Linked DNA regions of Homo sapiens. The protein of the gene in region 2 purifies or fractionates together with the protein of the main gene of each other region. This does not show direct contact. Each region holds a gene or a part of one and is shown on either strand. Other genes may lie near its edges.

Region 1 (4,879 bases), on a different chromosome or scaffold from region 2:
TTGGGGTTGAAGTGATAAGCTGTGGACCTGCAGGGAGAGGGCGGGCACTGAGCGGGGGCCCAGGTGTCTGCCCAGACCCAGGACGGCTGGCACGGCAGGGGGGTGTGGTGGGCTGGCAGGGACTCACTGATTCAGGTAAAAGCCCCGTGTGGACGCGGTGATGCTGACTTGCCGGTCCTCGGCTGTGATCACAAACAGGTACATGAGGTCCCCGTGCATCTTCCGGTTCCCCGGGGGCGGGTTCCATCCGCTCATGGTGAGTACTTTCAGGCACTGCAAGGGCTTCGGGAGCGGCCGAGTCTGAGGGGCCAGGCCTCTGGTGTGGGGCCTCCACCCCGCCAGGGACCCTCTTCCTCCCTCCCCCAGGATCCTACCTTCCAGTCACGGTTTTGGGGCTGCAGGGGACACAGTGGCCGCTCCCGGCTCCCTGGCAGGATGTACTCGGGTGGTGTGCAGTCGATGGGGTCCATCTCCAAGCCCTTCTTCCGCTTCCCGCTGTCTGAGGGACCCGAGGCTGGTGGTCAGCACAGGGCCACCCAGGGCCAGCTGTCTCCCTACCTCCTGATGGCCGTGGTCCGGGTGCCTCAGGCCCAGGCCCCTCGGCCCCTTCTCCAGCCCCCCACCTCCGTGCTCCCCGCCCTTTGGCCCAATCCCCGGCCCCAGTGCCTCCCGCACCTCCCAGGTCGCCGTCGGTGAAGACACTCAGGAAGGACAAGGAGTTGCAGTCAACCCCGTTGAAGGCATCGGATGGGTCCAGGCTCTTGAGCAGGTCTCGGACATGGCGCACGTGGATGCGGGCCTCACGCACCGTGTACGGCTCTGTCAGGAAGGCAGGGAGGGTATGGCGTTACCAGGGCCCTGCACCCTGAACAACCTGCCCAGCACAAAACAGGTTTTGGAGGTGCTAACACAGTGGTTTTAATTTTCAACTTTAGGTTTCCGTTTTCAAATTCCACTGTGAACACATAAGCTGGAGTTCTGGTTTTGACACCACAAACACACACACACACACACTCTGCCTACTGGTGAGCAGGGATCTTTGTTTATAAAGAACTTTCTGCCAAATGCCTCTGAAGCACACACAGGCCTCAGGCGTCCACAAGGCTGCCTGCTTTTGTGCGCCAGTGTGTCGGCTGGGCAGGGCTTTTGGAGCTGTGGGACTTCCACACCACAGCCTTGCCCTGCTCTCCCGAGGCAGCCTCATGTAGGGGTGGCCTGAGGACTTTCCAAGGCCCCCAATGTCAACACTGCCCCTATGTGGTTTCATGGGATTTTAATGGCAGTTCTTTTGGTGGAGGGGAGAGGTTCCGTGATCAACTGTGGGCGCTGTTGAGCTACAGACCTTTTCCGTCACTGCTCTCAACAGGCGGACAGGCCCTGGGGTGGAACCCAAGCAGCTTCTACCCAGAAAACTCGAGGCCACAGACCAACCGGATGGCACCTCCCCGTGCCCGACCTCCCCACTCTAGGGCTAGGAAACGTTTGGGACTTCTCATGGATCTCTACAGAACTGAACTGCGCTGACTTCACGCCCTGGGATGGTACTGCCTGATTTTTTTTTTTTAGAATCACGGCTCTGTTCTTTTGTTTTGTTTTTTTTTTTGAGACGGAGTTTCGTTCTTGTTGCCCATGCTGGAGTGCAGTGGCACGATCCGGGCACACTGCAACCTCTGCCTCCCAGGTTCAAGTGATTCTCCTGCCTCAGCCTCCCGAGTAGCTGGGATTACAGGCACCTGCCACCACGCGCAGCTAACTTTTTGTATTTTTAGTAGAGATGGGGTTTCACCATGTTGGCCAGGCAAGTCTCCAACTCCTGACCTCAGGTGATCCACACGCCTTGGCCTCCCAAAGTGTTGGGATTACAGGCGTGAGCCACCATGCCCAGCCCACGGCTCTGTTCTTTAACCCATGGGCCGTGAAGTTGGCAGATATAGGTGTGCTGGCCTGAGAAGCAGATCTGTGCTCCAATCCTGCCTCCATGAGCTCATCCGTGACACAGGGACCCTGGCATGGATGGTGCTGCCTGCCTCTGCCTCCGTGGGCCCTCCCCCGGGCAGGCTGTCCAACTTCCAGACCAACCTTCCACCACACGCAGCACAGAGCCCTCCTGCAGCCCCTCGACGCTGCGCAGCTCCGAGAAGTGGTCCAGCACGTTGCCATCCAGGTGCAGTGAGAAGCAGGTGCGGTGACACGTGTCCTCCCGGTCCATGAGCACCTGGTGAATCTCCTGCACCATCTCCTGGGGGGACACCTGCAGGGAGAAGGCCCCGCCCACCCCGGTGAGAGAGCACGTAGCGGGGAGAGAAGGCCCCAACCGCCCCGGTGAGAGGCCACGTAGCGGACAGCAAGGACAATATCCCCTTGTCCCCAGCCCAAAGTACCTTGGTCCCCAGAATAAATGCCCCAAATACTCGAATATCGGCTATCCCACTTTCTGGCTTTTAAATCCAGGCCATGTCCACACATGCCATGCCCTGTGTGTGCAGCCTGGAGCCTGGCCCACCGACTCGGCCTGCAGACCCAGAGCAATGCCCGAGCAGAGAAGGGAGATGAAGAACAGCGGGACAGAAGACGGCAGGCTCGCCCCCGGCCTTGCCCAGTGCTAAGGTGCCTGGGGCAAATGGCTTTCCCCTTCCAGAAGGGGTGCTCTGGGGCCCAAGCCTGCGGGTGCCGAGACATACGACGACCCTGTCTCGTTCCCCACTGAGTCACCGGCTTGCAAGACCTCCACGCTGGCTCTGCCCTTGGAGATAACCCAATACTACCCTCCCCTCTGGCAGATGGTAAAATCACGGCCCAGAGAGAGGTGACTTGCCTGAGGGCACAGAGCAAGAGGCTGGGGAGTCCTGGGATGCCAACACTTCCCAGCCACTATCACTCCCCTCCCCACATAGGGCTGGCAGGCCCAGCTGGTTGCTGTCCTCTAGCAATGGGGCAACGACCTGACCCTGGGCTCGATTCCCACGTCCACCACGCTAGCTGAGTGACTCTAGGGAGGGCACGGGATCCTCAGTTTCCTGCCACAAAATGGGGCCGGTAGGAGCACGAGCAAGGCTGAGCTTTCCAGCTCACCCTCCCCAGCAGGCTCAGGCCTGGCCCCCAGCACCCGTTCCTCCATCTTACCTGCAGGGAGAAGGGCTCGATCCCAGGGGCGAGGATCTTCACAGAAAAGCCCGTGTCCTGAATGACAATGACTTCCTGGCCGGTGGTCTCATCTCCCGGGCCGGCCTCGTCAAGCCCATTTTCCCTGGGTGGCTCGGCCGCCGCCGCCTCCTTCTTCAGGCTCTCTGGGCAGTCCCCGTTTAAGAGCATGACTGATGGCAGCTCTGCGGGTGACAAGAACGGGTCAGAATCAGGCAGCCTCGCTGGTCGGCGGGGCTGTCCGCCTGACCCCACACGGGGACACGTGCCTTCTGGAAAGGCATCTGCATGCCCTCGAGAGTCCCAGCCTCACGGTCGCGCCTCGCCCTCCGTGCACCTGCAGGCCACTTCCACACCCAGCCGCCCCTCCCAGCCACTGTTCCCTGGCCCACTGTGGTATGGCTTGCACCTGAACCCATGTCCCAAACCACTCTCCCCAGGGTCACCAAAGCCACCCTTCAAGCCAAGCCCGAGGGTCTCCTCCGGCCCTAACACACCTAGCTTCCCAGCAGCAGTTCCCCTCTTCCTCTCCTCTTCTCTGACCCCACACAGTGCCCTTGCCCCTCCCTCTCCAGCTCCATCCTCTTCCATCCCTCCTGAGCTGTGGTCCTGGGCTGCAGGGGGGCTGCAGGGGAGTGCCTAGGCCCAGCCTCTCCTGTTTCTGACCCCACCCCCTCCCATACACTCCTGCCCCGTGGCTCACACGGCCAATCCTGTCCTCTCTCCAGCCTTTTGGACCAAGGAGACCGCTGCCTCCCAGGCATCAACATGTGGCTGTCCCTGAGGCATCACTGAAGCCTCGTCTTGCAGGGACAGAACTCATCTTCCTCCTCAAACTGGCACCTGCTCTATCTAGTCACCCACCCTAAATCTCCCAACCCACCCACGGGACCCGGCCTCTGCAGCCACTGCCCTAGGGCAGGCATTTCCTCTATTTCAGCAGTGCCACCTGCAACCCTCCTAGGAAGCCCACTGCTTACAAGACCAAGCTTCTCAGGCCAGCGCTCTCAGGCACCCACCTGAAGTCAGCCTCAGCTCCTGCCTGCTCCCTGCTGAGGTCTAAGGACACCACACCATGCAAGCCTGGTACCGCCCACAGCCCTCCCACCGCCCTCCCACCGCTGTGCTTCTGTGTCTGTGCTGCCCCTGACATCCCATTCTGTACAGCAAACACTGACTCACCCTTCAAGGCCTAGGAGAAATAAACCTTTTCCACAGCCTGCCCAAATGACCCTTAATGGCAGAATCACACTCCCTCCCCCTTTCATTCCCAGAGACATTCGGCTGCACCCAGGGTGGCGTCCTCACCAGCAGCTCTACCCACCACCTTCTATCTTGCCCAGGCTCAACAAAAAAGGCAACAAATAAAGTACTTACTGCAAACCTCTAGCTACATCCAATATTTGAAGACAGCACCCAATCCACATGCTCCAGGGTGGGGAGCAGGTGACAAAACCTTGCATTCCTACCCAGGCACCAGTGGAACAAAGGAGAACCCCCTGTTCCGCTGAGGAGCCAAGGATCGCCTCTCAGTAACCCTCCAGCAGACACGGGCCTGCCTGGGCACCCATCTAGGAGATGAGGACCTTGGCCCCCAGGATCTGTCCATGGGCCAGGCTCACCTGCCTGGCTTGGCTTGAAGTTCAACGGTCCCAACTCTGAGGAGTGCCTGGGTTCCCTTCCAGAAAGAAGAGCTCGCCCAGCTCTGCCCATCCCATCTAGACCCCACCTCCCCTTC
Region 2 (4,879 bases):
TTTTGAGTTAATTTTTGTATATGTGTGAGGCAAGTCCAACTTCATTGTTTTGTACTCAGATATCCAGTTATCCCAGCACCATTTGTTAGGCTGTTTTTCCCCTGTTGAATGGTCTTGGTACCTTTGTAGAAAATCAACTGGCCATAGATGTATGGATTTATTTCTAGACTCTCAATTCTATTCATTTTTTTGGTTTGTTTGTTTAAGAAAGGGTTGCATTCTTTCGACAGCCCAGGCTGGAGTACGGTGGCTCCATCTTGGCTCACTGCAACCTCCGTCTCCTGGGTTCAAGCAATTCTCCCATCTCAGCCTCCCAGGTAGCTGGGACTACAGGCGTGTGCTACCATGCCTGGCTAATTTTTGTGTTTCTTGGTAGAGATGGGGTTTCACCATGTTGGCTAGGCTGGTCCTGAATTCGTGACCTCAAGTGATTTGCTCACCTCGGCCTCTCAAAGTACTGGGATTACAGGCATGTGTGAGCCACTGCGCCCAGCCAATTCTATTCATTTGATCTATATGTCAATACCACACTATTTTGGTACTGTTACTGTGGCTTACTGTGGTTATTGTGGCTTTGGAGCAAATTTTGAAATTCCAGATTGTGAGGCCTCCAACTTTGTTCTTTTTTTTTTTTTGAGACGCAGTCTCGCTTTGTCGCCTATGCTGGAGTGCAATGGCGCGATCTCGGCTCACTGCAACCTCCGCCTTCTGGTTTCAGGTGATTCTCCTGCCTCAGCCTCCCGAGTAGCTGGGATTACAGGCGCCCGGCACCACGCCTAGCTAATTTTTCTATTTTTAGTAGAGATGAGGTCTCACCATGTTGGTCAGGTTGGTCTCAAACTCCTGACCTCATGATCTGCCTGCCTCTGCCTCCCAAAGTGCTGGGATTACAGGCATGAGCCACCGTGCCCAGCCAACTTTGTTCTTTTTTAAGATCGTTTTGGCTGTTTGAGGTCCCTTGAGATTCCATGTGAATTATAGCATCAACTTCCATTTTTTGCAAAAAAGGCCATTGGGATTTTGACAGGAATTGCATTGAGTAAATTGCTTTGGGGAGTTTTGCCATCTTAACAATATTCGGTCTTTCAATCCATGAACATGGGATGTCTTTCCGTTTATTTATGTCTTTAATTTCTTTCAGCAATGTTTTGTAGCTTTCAATGGACAAATCTTGCACCTCTTGGTTAAATCTATTCCCATGCATTTTATTCTTTTCGATGTTATTATAAATGAAATTGTTTGAATTTCCTTTTAAGATTGTTCATTGCTGGTATATACAATAATCAGTTGTATAGAAATACAACTGATTTTTTTGTGTTGATCTTGTATCCTACAACTTTGCTGAATTTGTTTCTTAGCATTTTTTTCTTTTTTTTTTTTTTTTTTTTTTTTTTAGACAGAGTCTCTCTCTGTTACCAGGCTGGAGTGCAGTGGCATGATCTCGGCTCACTGCAACCTCCGCCTCCCAGGTTCAAGCGATTTTTCTGCCTCAGCCTCCCAAGTAGCTGGGACTGCAGGTGCATGCCACCATGCCCAGCTAATTTTTGTATTTTTAGTAGAGATGGGGTTTCGCCATGTTGGCCAGTGTGGTCTCGATCTCTTGACCTCGTGATCTGCCCACCTCGGCCTCTCAAAGTGCTGGTATTACAGGCATGAGCCACTGCGCCTGGCCTGTTTCTTAGCTTTAATAGTTGTGTGTGTGTGTGTGTGTGTGTGTGTGTGTGTGTGTGTGTGTGTATTCTTTAGGATCCTCTATATATAACATCATACCGTCTGTGAAGAGAGGTAGCTTCCTTTCCAATTTGGATGGCTTTTATTTATTTTTCTTGCCTAATTCCTCTGATTGGAACTTCCAGTACTATGTTAAATAGCAGTAGTGGAGCAGGCATCTTTGTCTTGTTCCTGATCTTAGACAGAGGGCTTTCAATATTTTACCATTGAGTATAATGTCAGCTGTGGGGTTAAATTTTTTAACGCCTTTTATCATGTTGAGGGAGTTCCCTTCTGTTCCTAGTTTGTTGAGTGATTTTATCACAAAAGGCTATTGAATTTTGTCAAAGGCTTTTTGTGCATCAACTGAGAGATCGTGTTTTCCCCTTCTCTGCTTTTGCTCCCCTTCTACTGGTAGAAAGGACCCACCTAAAGCAAGCAGTGGGCGCCCTAGAGGGGTTACAGCCTAGCTCTTCCCTGAGAGCAGTTCTTGGTTTGAACCTGAGGGCAGCGGGTCCGCCTGAGGAAACCAGGTGTCTGGAAGGTGAAGGCTTGTGGAGCTGAGTAGATGGGGCAGTAGGTCCCAGAGATATGGCCAGCCCCAGTCATGTCCTGCTCTCTGTGGAGTCCCACAGAGGCTGACGAGGTATGGGGGCCCTGATAGCTGGCTACATGCAGGCCATGCCCTTTGGCGGGTGGTGGCGTCAGTCTGGGGCAGACCTCCCATGCTCACATAGTGTGCTCATTCACCCAGCACTGCCTTAGGTTGGGCTCCCTAGAATGGTGGCTCTTAAACCCCAGCAAGTATCTGAAACACTGGAGGGCTTGTTCCAGCAGATGGCTGGGCCCCTCCCAGAGTTTCTGATCCATGTTGTCTTGGGTAGAGACTGGGAATCTGCATTTCTAATACATTCTCAAGTGTTGTGGATGCTGCTGGTCTGAGAACCACATCCCTAGAAGCAGAGTCTGAGATGGTGCAGGCGATTTCAGATGAACCCTGCAAGAGGCACAGGCAGTGGGGAGCGGGCAGAGTGAGCAGCTGAGCACAGATGTGGATTTGGAAGTGTGGCCTCAGCCTGATTCCATGGAGATCTCTGGGGCGTGAATGTCACCACAGGGTTGCCCTGCCCAGAAGCATGTGGCCTGGCTGTTACAGGCCCTTGTCAGTCATGGCTCTCCTGGGATGATGCAGGTGAGGTGGCTTCTGTCAGGAGAAGGGCTCTGGTGCACCAGCCAGAAAAGGGGATCAACGGCATGCATGGCCAGCACCTACTGTGTGCCAGGCATGGCCTCAGCACTGTCTGCACAGCAGTGAGCAGACGCGTGCTGTCCTCCTGGAGCTGGCATCCTTTTGAGGGAGATAGATGCTAATCGGGACAGTCTGTAGCCTCAGGGAGAGAAGTGCTATCTGGGAAGATGAAGCCAAGGTGTGGGCTCCAGGGGGCCCCAGGTGGGAGTATTTTATTTTATTTTTTTGAGACAGAGTTTCACTCTGTCACCCAGGCTGGAGTGCAGTGGTGCGATCTTGGCTCACTGCAACCTCCACCCCTTGGGTTGAAGAGATTCTCCTCCCTCGCCTCCTGAGTAGCTGGGATTACAGGCACCTGCCACCATGCCCGGCTAATTTTTGTGTTTTTAATGGACACCAGATTTCACCATGTTGGCCAGGCTGGTCGTGAACTCTGGACCTCAAGTAATCCGCCTACCTCAGCCTCCCAAAGTTCTGGGATTACAGATGTAAGCCACCAAGCCTGGCTGGGTGTGGGGATTTTAGATTAGATGAGGAGGACAGGCCTCTCTGACTGGTTTCCACCTCTAAGTCCTCATCCAAAGCCTTGTTTTATAGATGAGACAGAGGCACAGAGAAGTGAATTCTAAATTCACATAGCCAGTGGCAGAACCCAGACTTGGACCAGTTTGGGGAACTTCTGAGCCTGTCCACCCCAGTCCTAGCCTCACCCACAGTGCCCTTGCCCAGGGCGAGACTATCAGGGAGCCTGACCTGCTGGATCTGGGCAGTCCCACCGTGGCATGCTGCATGTCCCAGAGAAGGTATCTGTCAGCAGTGCAGCACCCCCCACCTGCCCCACCCACAGCTCCCTCGGGGGCTATCCCTGGAAGTGTTGGTCAGAAAGTGAATCTCCAGATGTCACCTGGTGGTGCCCTGAGCTCCTCCTACCTGCCACCTCCTCTGACCACATAGAGCCTGCTCTAGCCCAGGCCCTCTTCCCTCTCCTCCCCTCACCCAGGGACCCGCCACTAGTCCGCCCCACCCACTCTGTTTATTTCTCACCTTGGCCACTGATGGGTGGTTTCTCCTAGAGCGGTGCTGCCCTGTGGAACCTTCTGCAATGATGGAAATGCTCAGACCTGCTCTGTGCAGTCCAGTCGCCACTGGCCGCATGTGGCTCTTGAAATATGGAGAGTGTAACTGAGGAACCAAACTTGAATTTTTAAAATTTTGATGAATTTACAATCACTCGTAAGTAGCCACCTGTGGCTGGCAGCCACTGGATTGGATGGTGCTGGTCTAGGGTGTTGGCAACCACATCACTGCCTTGTGCAGAAACCACTGCTGCACCAGGAGAAGGCCCAAGTGCCAGCCTCCTCTTCACTGCCCGAAGCCTGCTGCTCCGCTGAGGGGCTCGTCTCGCCAACGTTGGCACAGCAAACACACATACTTTCTCCTGTGGGGGCTGGTCCTGCTGGCCAAGTCCCGTGCATGCTCCTGGGTGGCTGCACCTGGCCCCTGCACCAGGTCAGGTCCAATCTGTGGAGGATACCAAGGAACCTCTTTGAGGTTCCCAAGTGTGTCCCATGCCACTGCAGTTTTGCAGAAGGTTAGTGTGTGTGACTTAAAAGGCAAAGAGGGCAGGCAGATCTTCTGACATCTGGGGGGAGCAAAGTTAGAATGGAATATTTGCTGCAGAACTTCTCAGAGCCTTTAGCATGCTAGGATGTGCTGCAAATCTCCAGGAGGCAGGCGGCATAAGCCATGCTTCCCAAACGACTTGCCGGTGGAAGCCTCCTTGAGGAGTGCTGTGCGAGACCCGTGGCTGTGGAGCACACGAGAGAATGCCTTTCTCGTGGTTTGTGTCCATGCTGGGCTCTCGGCTGCATTGTCTTCCAGTCTGTGTCCCCTGCTGGCTTCCCAGGGAGGGAGGGAGGC
Region 3 (4,879 bases), on a different chromosome or scaffold from region 2:
AGGAAAAGCTAACTTCTTACTCAAAGTCTCCTCTGAAAAATAACCAATTGTATTTTATTACCATAAAAAGTTGTTGAACTGGAAATTAATGAGAGAAATCCTGATAAAATGCTTTAAAGCAACATCATATTATTGGCCTAGGGAATTATATGGAAATATTGCACTTAAAGAACTTCTGATTATAAAAGCAATTCAACACACCATTCACTGCTCCTCTACGCCAGACATTCTACAAGTCCTGGGATACAGAGTCCCTTCCCTTCCTTTAATGACATATAAGATAACTCTGTCATTGAGAGGTTTTGAGGACCACACTTTAAGGTAAAAAACCAATTACATTCTGAGGTGATAATACTGTTTTGTTTTGTTTTGTTTTGTTTTGTTTTGTTTTGTTTTGTTTTTTGAGACAGAGCTTCGCTCTTGTCGCCAGACTGGAGTGCAGTGGCACGATCTCAGCTCACTGCAACCTCCGCCTCCCGGGTTCAAGCGATTCTCCTGCCTCAGCCTCTCCAGTAGCTGGGATTACAGGTGCATTCCACCACGCCCAGCTAATTTTTGTATTTTTAGTAGAGACGGGATTGACCAAGCTGGGCTCGAACTCCTGACCTCAGGTGATCCACCTGCCTTGGCTTCCCAAAGTGCTGGGATTACAGGCATGAGCCACCGTGCCCGGCCAATACTGTTCTATTTCTTAACCTAAAAGGTGGTGACACCGTAGTATTCACTTAATGATAATTCACTGAGCTGAACATTTATGACTTACAAACTTTTCAGTATGTGTATTAGATGTCAACACAAATTTTTAAATAAATTAATACATATATAACAGCTCTCTTACCTGCTCATGCCAGCTAAGCCCAGAAGGAAGCATTCTATGCTGGAGAGTGGCTCCTTTCAGTCCTACGGCAATGAGAAATTCCTATACAGAACAAGACAAAGAATGACATTTACCACCTATGTAATCCTATAACTCAAAAGTTTTTCCAAGAAAATAAATATGTTGCCTTTTATGTAATTATTTTTAGCTAGAATCAAATCAACAGTGGCATAAAAGTACAAAACACAAACCTTTGTATTGGACTCTGATTTATCAGACAATATTTTAACGGCAACAGACAGCATATTCAAACTGTCTCCTCCAACTCCATCTGAAGAAGTTTTACTGAGGCCATCTTCTTCAGAGGAATAAATAGTAGGTTCCAACCAGTGTGGGCGGGTTGAGCTGGGAAGTCGTGTTTCTGTCGGGAGAATCACTCCATTCACTATGCCTAGAGATCCACATTGAGGTAAAAATAGTAACAAAATGATTACTTGAAATTAGCTAATCAACTTACATGACTCAAAACAAAAATCCACGTACTTCCACTGAATATAACTTAAGGAGGCATGATGACAAAAACCAGCATGGCATTAATAATCCACTCCTCTTTGCTAATGTTAGTGTGACTGACCGTACACAGCTTAAAGAAACAAAAGATTCTGAAATGCTAGGAAAATTAAATAGAAAACTATCACAAACATCTCATGTCTATGAAACAAGGTAAACTCAGGTAACTGCTCAAAAAATGGTAGGTTCTATATCTGGAACCAAAAGGAAATATTCCTTAAAGAAGAATAAAGAACATATAGTCCCATCGACTGATGAATGGATACATAAGATGTGATCTATCTTTACAGTGGAATATTATTTGGCAATAAAAAGGAATGAAGTACAGATACAACTTGGATGAACTTTGAAAGCGTGTCAAATGAAAGAAGCCAGTCAAAAAGGCCAAATATTGTATGATTCCATTTATAAGAAACTTCTGAATATGCAAATCCATAGAAACAGAGTGTAGGTTAGTGTGTTTACGGGAAGGAGAGAGCGGAAGGGGTGAAAGTTTATCACTAAAGTGTATGAAATTTCTTCATGGGGTAATAAACATGTTTTAAAATTGACTATGGTGACGGTTGCATAACTCTTGTGAAATACTAAAAACCACTGAAAGGTACACTTTAAATGAGTATGGTGTGTGAATTATACCTCAACAAAGCTATTGCAAAAAAAGAACCTGAAGTTGACTTCTAATTTGTAAATATTACTTTGACAGCAGAATGAGAGCCCTCCACAGAAAATAATTTCTAATACCAAAGTTCTGTTCTCAATAGATTTTCTTTGTTAAACAAGAAATTTAAACATGTCTAAAGAGAAGAAACCAAGACACGTGTTTGTCCTACCTTTATGGTACAGACTGAAACTGCTAGAATGAAGGCAAATGTAGTGCTTGTCATCAAAACCTTCATATTTTGTCACACAAAATAATGAACCACTATTGAACTCTAACCAGAATTCACCATGCTTGTTTTCCAACAGATCTCCATTATCTTGCTAGTAAAAAGATCAGAAAAACACAGAAGTTATTACTTAAATGCAGAAAAGTAAGCATGTTCCTTGAGATGCTCTTTGTTGATTCAGCTTAGGAAAATCTCCCATACTGCAGCAAAGCAGTCTAATCCTTGAACTATTCAATATCATGGTATAAAATAAAACTGGATAACTTAAATGCTATGTGGAACCTCTTCTATCAGATGAATCTCTGTACTTTGTTGTCACCCCAGAAGCAGAATTAGCACCTGTTTTCCAAAGGGAGAGCCCCACAAAGTTTGATCTGCAACGAAAGCTAAATCCCCAAAGTTGCTATCATCATGGTTTGCCCCAGGACACTGGTCTTCATCAGTCCCTGAAACAACTTCAAAATATCAAATACTTCAATCACTAGATATGTATCCTAGCAGATTTATTTAAAGTAAGATACATTTGAAAAAACACTTCGGATTTGTAAACCTCACCTTCACATCTGTGAACACTGCTATTAATCCATGATTAATATTCAGAAGAACTGAGAGAAAACTCTGAGAGTTCTTGTTCTGAGAGTCTAATTTTTTTTTCCTGCGAGAACGATAGTTGGGATCAACAGTGGAAAAATACTGCAAAGTCTCCTCCTCAGATCCACTTTCCTCATCTATGAGAAATAAACATACAATTACATTCTGATAGCATATTAAAACAGCAACATAAAAATGATCATGAAAATATTTTATATAACCTGCTTAGTTTTACAAAGAATATGGTGTGAACACAGAAATACATACTGTTTTTCTCTTTAGCTTTGAACTTCAAACAATGTGCACACTATCATTCTAAAGAGAACATATTTAAGTGATAATGATATTCTCAATATACAGATAGAAATAAGGAAATATTCTTATAAATTACTAAAAGAAATTGCAAAATATAGTTACAATGAAACATAAAGATTTTTAAATCCACAATTCAAAGGTTAGTACTTTGTTAATTGATAAACTAGGCATTTTAAATCAAAACAAATTAAAAATATATTACCATAGTGAACTGCAGATTTAAATGCACTAAAACTATCTTTGTTGAAAGTATTAATGAGCTGACTGGCTACTGAAAGCCCAATGCCATAGGAAATATTCTCGAATGTCTCCACTGGTGAAGGAGCTGTTGGTTCCCACAGTAGCAAGTCATTAAAGATCCTATAAAGACAAAAGTTGAAAAATAAGTACTTAACTCCTAGTTCAACAGAAGGCAAACTTAAAAAAAAATCCTTTTAAAAGATCGTATGAACAATAATTTTTTAAACGGCAAAATGGAAATTAGATCCTACAAGAATTTGGAAAAACAACAAAAATAACAACTGCATTCTTTCAATGAAAAAATAACTGATATGGCTATAATGCAGGGCAGTGACAAAAGAATCTGCACAATTAGATACCTAAATAGATACTTGCCTAATTTTACCTATGTTATATACATCAAATTACAAATTCATATTACATTTCAAAATATACCTTAGAAACAGAAGCTCATGAAAAATAAAAACCCACAAAGAACAGAAAAGGAGGACGGCTCACCTATATGAGAGCACTTTGTAAACTGGAACTGATCCTGCATCATCTCACTGACCCTCCCCTCAGTCCTGTGGGGTGTCCAGGGCAGAATCATTATTCTCACTTTACACCTGAAGAAACTGTCTCATAAAGGTTATGTGACCTTCCCAAAGTCACATGGCTAATTAGTGGAAAAATGGGGATGAAAGTCCAGATTATGTAGATTACATCCAGCTCCCAATTCAGTTCTTTTTTTAAGGCAAGTATTTATCTGTGGGATCAATTCAGTTCTTTCCCTAGAAATACCTGATTTTTCTCTCATCAGCAACAGAAAGCACAGCTTCACTGGGAAGACTTCATGAGATGAAGAATGCATATGGAGCAAAAAATAAGGAGAGAAAAACCCTTATGACTAGCGAGACTAGCCCAATCAATACTGGCAACCAATGGGAAGGCATATGTCATACCTAGGCTGTCACCACATCCTACTTTTTCAAAGAACTACCTGTCACTGCTCAGATGCCCCTGTCCTAGCCTCCTCCCCTCATCCATCCTCGAAGTTTTCAAGAAAACTCAAACTTCACCACGTCTTCTAGTAAACCCATCGTAAGATCTGGACCCACAGCATATGCTTCACACAGACCCACTTAAATCACAGCACCTACAGCACCCTCCTGAATTTTCTCGTTTCCCCTTTTTAGACTGCAAGCCGCCCAAGAGAGGGACTTGTGTCGATCATCTCTACATGTGCCTAGCACAGTGGCTGTCACATAACAGGCACGGACAGTTGGTGAGGACAGTGAATGATTCACATGGAAGTGCTGCCAAAACCCAGACTCATCGTAAAGCCTGGTGTGAATACCGGTCAAGGCGCCGCGTGGTGAGGCAGCCCTGCCCCCTTCTGTGAGAAGCCACTGCCAGGACAATTCTTGAGCTTCTGAAGTCCTAGAAGGTGTACACCAGGACTGAGGATTGTGACTCTCAG
Region 4 (4,879 bases), on a different chromosome or scaffold from region 2:
GTTTATAGATCTTTAAGAATTTAAGAGGTGGAGAAGGGGAAGCATGAGAAACTTAAAGAGATGCAAATTGAGCATCTCTTAAAATATAATGGATTTATGTAGGGGAAACAGATTTGTTGCCAAAAGTTAATTTGCAAACAAGTTATTAGGAACACACTTGATAAAATTAGATGCTGATTAATTGGAGATATACTGTATCCAGAGATATATTGAAGGATCCAGAGGAAATAAACAGAGAAGGAGAGGGAGTAAGTCGGCTTCTGGCTCATAAAGGGGTCCACTGAAGATGCTTCCCACCATTATGGTTGCTCCTAAACCATCTGACTCAGATTTCTAGTGGAGGGTAGGATGGGTGTGTTAGCAATCATTTGAGACCCGGGTTGTGAACCAGGAAGGGTTACTATGTATTGTGAAAAGTTCTTGAGATTTGCCGCAGGCCATGAGGAGTGGTAAAGTCAGTTTAAAAATCTGCTGTAGTTCTAGTTAACACGTTCACACCTTCTTCAGTAAAGTGGAATGCTGTTACCAAAGGAAGTATTCGTGTTTTAGAGGGGGGTGTGGTGAAGGTTCTTACAAGTTTGGAAGAGGTGGAAGAAAATGTTGTTACAATTGTGTAGAGTAGTGAAGGGCTTTGGTAAATATCCTGTCAAATCATAGAGTAGTATTTTTAGAGTTGCACCCAGCTGTCCATTAGAAGAGCCAGAGGCCTTGTCTGTTTTGTTCCCTGGTGTCCCCAGTATCCAGCGCAGTTATCCGCATATTCTGTGCCCTCAGATATTTTTTAATTAAGTGAATACTATTGATATGGGAAAAAGAACAGTTATGGTGGTTTATAGCAGTGTTAGTTATTAAAAGCTACCTGATATTTTGCAATGGATTAAAGAGCCAATTTTTGATCAAATAGGGCTCTGGGTAGGAAAGAAAATGAAAATGAAGAGCCAGCTTTCAGTGCTTATTGTTTGGAATTTTTGAGATTCCTTTAAGAAATTGTTTTCTAAAGACTGTCATGAACATTATCGAGTCCCCTAGTTTTTGAGTCTTAATGAATCTTAAGTGTTTCAGATGTTAGTTACTTTTTTAAGAGCACAGTAAGTGCAAAGGTAGTATAGAATAGTGGGAAGTTCTGGATTGACAGACATATATTCTGATTCCATCTGTGTCATTTATTGCTGTTGGGAATGTCACTTAACTTCTCTGGGCGTCAGTTTTCTCATATATACAATTAAGGGCCTATAGTCTTTGACCTCAAGTAGTTTCTCTAGCCTGATTCTGCAAATTTTTAATCATTTCTAATTATGTTATTTGGTATTCATCTCATATAGGTAGATGAACTTTTATTATTTAAAAGAAACAAGATTCTGTGTTGGGTTCTGCTTTTAGCTTATGGATTTTAGACATTGTCCAAAAGTGCTTCCGATGTTGAATGTATGTTGCAAGTGTTATGTAGAAAGAACATGCTTATGCTGTTGTAATTGGCTTAGTGTTGAAATCAAATTGGGTTTTACATTGGGAACTTCATAATTTAGTGTGAAGTCATGAGACTTGAGAATGGTTTGGGGGGAGTTTGTGCAATTTATATAGCTAGCTGTTTCTTACCACCTAATTCTGTAATTTTCTATGATGAATATATAGATAAATTTATAATCAGTGTAACATTGATTTAAGTTATAAGATGATATCAGATTCATACTGGATTGAACTAGAACTCCCAGTAACTTTAGAGGCTACCAAATTATTAACATGTCATTGCTATTTTTAATCTTAATTTTGTGATATCAATACTGATATGCTTTCATCTTTGCTTTTGTATCTAGAAACAATATACCTTTTAAGTTCATATTTGTATCAGATATTAAAAATGAAAATTGTAGCATGAAAGTGGGTAGATAGTAAATCTTGGGTTCAAGCCTGGGTTGTTATTCTTCATTACCCATGTTGTTTCTGGCAAGCTACATAACCCCCCTGAGCTCCAGTTCCCTCATTAGTGAAAGGAAGAAGAGCAACTTTTCTACTTTTCTAACAGACTGTGGATCAAACAATAGTGTATATGAAAAGCATTCTAAAAATGTAAGGGGCTGGTATTAGAATCGTATTGTATTAGAATCCTATTTTATGTCTTTGAAGAATTGGCTTGTGGAGCAGTGGTAAACCTAGTCTGTATTGTCAAGTGCAGAATTTACCAATATCACTGATATGGCAACAGAGAAGGTTTCTGCTTCTGTACTCTGGCTGGAGAAACCTTTCAGCACATGTATCCTGTCTGCCAGTCGGAATAGTCACAATGTTGCAGGGACTTCAGAGGAACCTGGGATGTCTCACATTTATGCCAAGGTCTCTACTTGGAATAGACTTGGCTAGATTTCACCCATTTTCTTATGTTGGAGCAGTGGTAGAAGGTGGTAGGAGCAAGGAGTTCAGCACATTCTGTGTAAAGTTCTAAGGCTGTGTTTTTAAGTAGCAGGTGGCAGTGTCATAGGGTAATGAAATCAATGTACTTATTTAAAAAAGCATTTTCAGAAAGAGAATATATCAGTACATTGCATAAAGTAAAAGTAAATATAGACACAGAGGTATTGTCTTGATGCTGATAGCTGCAGATATTCAGAATGATTCTGTTACAACAGATGGTAGCAAGCTTTTCTGATTTCACTTATCTGGGGTCTAAATCTAATTTCTTTAGTAGTTAATACTGTTTTGTTTTGTTTTTTTTTTTGGACACAGAATCTTGCTCTGTTTGCCCAGGCTAGAGTGCAGTGGCACGATCTCGGCTCACTGTAACCTCTGCCTCCCGGGTTCAAGATTTGGGAAACTTTTGTTTCTTTTTAAAAGATATTTTTATGTATGTATACTTGGTTGCCGTGTAAAATGTATTTTTTCTTTTTAAAAATTATAATTTTCATTTTTTGTAGAGACAGGGTTTTGCTACGTTGCCCAGGCTGGTCTTGAACTCCTGGGCTCAAAGGTAGTCCTCCTGCTTTGGCCTCCCAAAGTGCTGGGATTGTAGACATGAGCCACTGTGCCTGGCCTAAAAGGTTGTTTTTTTCTTTTGGGTTGTGATAAAACTTTGTCGTCGTTGTTTGGGGACATAGTACTTGGGCAATGTGGATAGAATGACTGTCTATAAAATAGTAAGGCATGAAACTAACGAAAACAAAAAGAAAATTGTGAAGGTGGGTTACCTTAAAGCTATTCTGTTAGTGGTGAAATACCTCATAGCTATGTTCTGAACTGTTGATTTAATGAACAAAGCACATGAACTTATGCTGTAATAATATTCTTAAGTACTCTTTTCCCTTAACATGGAGTATGGAGTACTTTAACCACAGAGGTATTGTCTTGATGCTGATAACTACGGATATTCAGAATGATTCTGTTATGACAGATGATAGCAAGCTTTTCTGATTTCACTTACCTGGGGTCGAAATCTAATTTCTTTATTAGTTAATACTTTTTTTTTTTTTTTTTTTTTTTGAGACAGAGTCTCGCTCTGTTGCCCAGGCTGGAGTGCAGTGGCGCGATCTCGGCTCACTGTAACCTCCGCCTCCTGGGTTCAAGTGATTCTCCCTGCCTCAGCCTCCCCAAGTCGTTAATACTTTTATAACTTAGTTGCAGAAGAGAAATATAAATTTATTTAGTTTTCAGAATTATTCATAGATTTATAATCTGGCAAAATATAAGGAAATTATAAGTATATTGATAAATCATGACATAACTGGCAAGAATTGGTATGAAGACAAGATGGTTATAACTTGAAATAGGGTTGTTATTTATTCTATGCCTATCATTTTTCCATGAGATAAACCAAATATTTAATTGTTTAGACTGATTCCACAAATGACATGGGAAGGCAGAGTGTTTATAAAGAGTTTTGGAAGTGATATAGGACACTATAATTTGGAGTTTTAACTTAATCTTATTTTAAATTTCAAAATGAAATTATTTCTGGTTATGAAAGCTACGGAACTTTTTTTTTTTTTTTTTTTTTTAGATGGCGTCTCGCTCTGTCACTCAGGCTGGAATGCAGTGGTGTGATCTCAGCTCACTGCAACCTCAGCCTCCTGGTTCTAGCAATTCTGCTGCCTTAGCCTCCTGAGTAGTTGGGATTACAGGTACCTGCCACCACGCCTGGCTAATTTTTGTATTTTTAGTAGAGACAGGGTTTCACCATGTTGGCCAGGCTGGTTTCGAACTCCTGACCTCAGGTGATCCGCCTGCCTTCGCCTCCCAAAGTGGTGGGATTACAGGCGTGAGCCACTGCACCTGGCCCAGAACGGTTTTAGTGTTTTTTAAAAAAAAAAGTAGAGATGACCTGTAATCCCATCTGGATGTAATGTTTGGTATTTTTGTTTTTTTTCTTATACATATCTATTGAAATAATTTTAAAAAGAACAACTTTCCCTGTAAAATTGATATTCCCTTAATGAGCATTTAGTGTTTATAATATGGATGCATCATAGTTTATAGCAGTTCTGTGTTATTAATGGATATTGTCAATTTTTCTCTTAAAGCAGTACTGTGATGAACTCGTTTGGACATTGAATTGCATTGAATTGTTCTATTATTTTATTATTTCCTTAGGATAAATTCTTTTTTTTTTTTTTTTTGAGACAGAGTCTCACTTTGTCGCCCAGGCTGGAGTGCGGTGGTGCGATCTAGGCTCACTGCAGCCTCTGCCTCCCGGGTTCAAGCGATTCTCCTGCCTCAGCCTCCTGAGTAGCTGGGCGTACAGGCGCATGCCACCACGCCCGGCTAATTTTTTGTATTTTTAGTAGAGACAGGGTTTCACCATGTTGACCAGGATGGCCTCGATCTCCTGACCTCATGATCCACCTGCCTCCGCCTCCCAAAGTGCTGGGATTACAGGCCTGAGCCACTGCAC

The links. The genes of interacting proteins can lie anywhere in the genome.
Region 1: the proteins of HDAC11 (region 2) and CLUH purify together in Homo sapiens (co-immunoprecipitation; 3 studies listed by BioGRID and IntAct, with this or other methods). This does not show direct contact.
Region 3: the proteins of HDAC11 (region 2) and ATG2B purify together in Homo sapiens (co-immunoprecipitation; 4 studies listed by BioGRID and IntAct, with this or other methods). This does not show direct contact.
Region 4: the proteins of HDAC11 (region 2) and MTMR3 purify together in Homo sapiens (co-immunoprecipitation; 3 studies listed by BioGRID and IntAct, with this or other methods). This does not show direct contact.

Annotation. Positions count from the first base shown.
Region 1 is NC_000017.11:2,701,239-2,706,117, forward strand, and holds part of CLUH (clustered mitochondria protein homolog), read right to left. Parts: intron 3,327-4,879; coding exon 3,124-3,326; intron 2,252-3,123; coding exon 2,080-2,251; intron 820-2,079; coding exon 676-819; intron 500-675; coding exon 375-499; intron 283-374; coding exon 128-282; intron 28-127; coding exon 1-27. UniProt on the Homo sapiens protein: mRNA-binding protein involved in proper cytoplasmic distribution of mitochondria.
Region 2 is NC_000003.12:13,489,377-13,494,255, forward strand, and holds part of HDAC11 (histone deacetylase 11), read left to right. Parts: intron 1-4,879. UniProt on the Homo sapiens protein: Responsible for the deacetylation of lysine residues on the N-terminal part of the core histones (H2A, H2B, H3 and H4).
Region 3 is NC_000014.9:96,314,316-96,319,194, forward strand, and holds part of ATG2B (autophagy-related protein 2 homolog B), read right to left. Parts: intron 3,541-4,879; coding exon 3,383-3,540; intron 3,003-3,382; coding exon 2,830-3,002; intron 2,369-2,829; coding exon 2,218-2,368; intron 1,269-2,217; coding exon 1,069-1,268; intron 920-1,068; coding exon 839-919; intron 1-838. UniProt on the Homo sapiens protein: Lipid transfer protein required for both autophagosome formation and regulation of lipid droplet morphology and dispersion.
Region 4 is NC_000022.11:29,885,321-29,890,199, forward strand, and holds part of MTMR3 (phosphatidylinositol-3,5-bisphosphate 3-phosphatase MTMR3), read left to right. Parts: intron 1-4,879. UniProt on the Homo sapiens protein: Lipid phosphatase that specifically dephosphorylates the D-3 position of phosphatidylinositol 3-phosphate and phosphatidylinositol 3,5-bisphosphate, generating phosphatidylinositol and phosphatidylinositol 5-phosphate.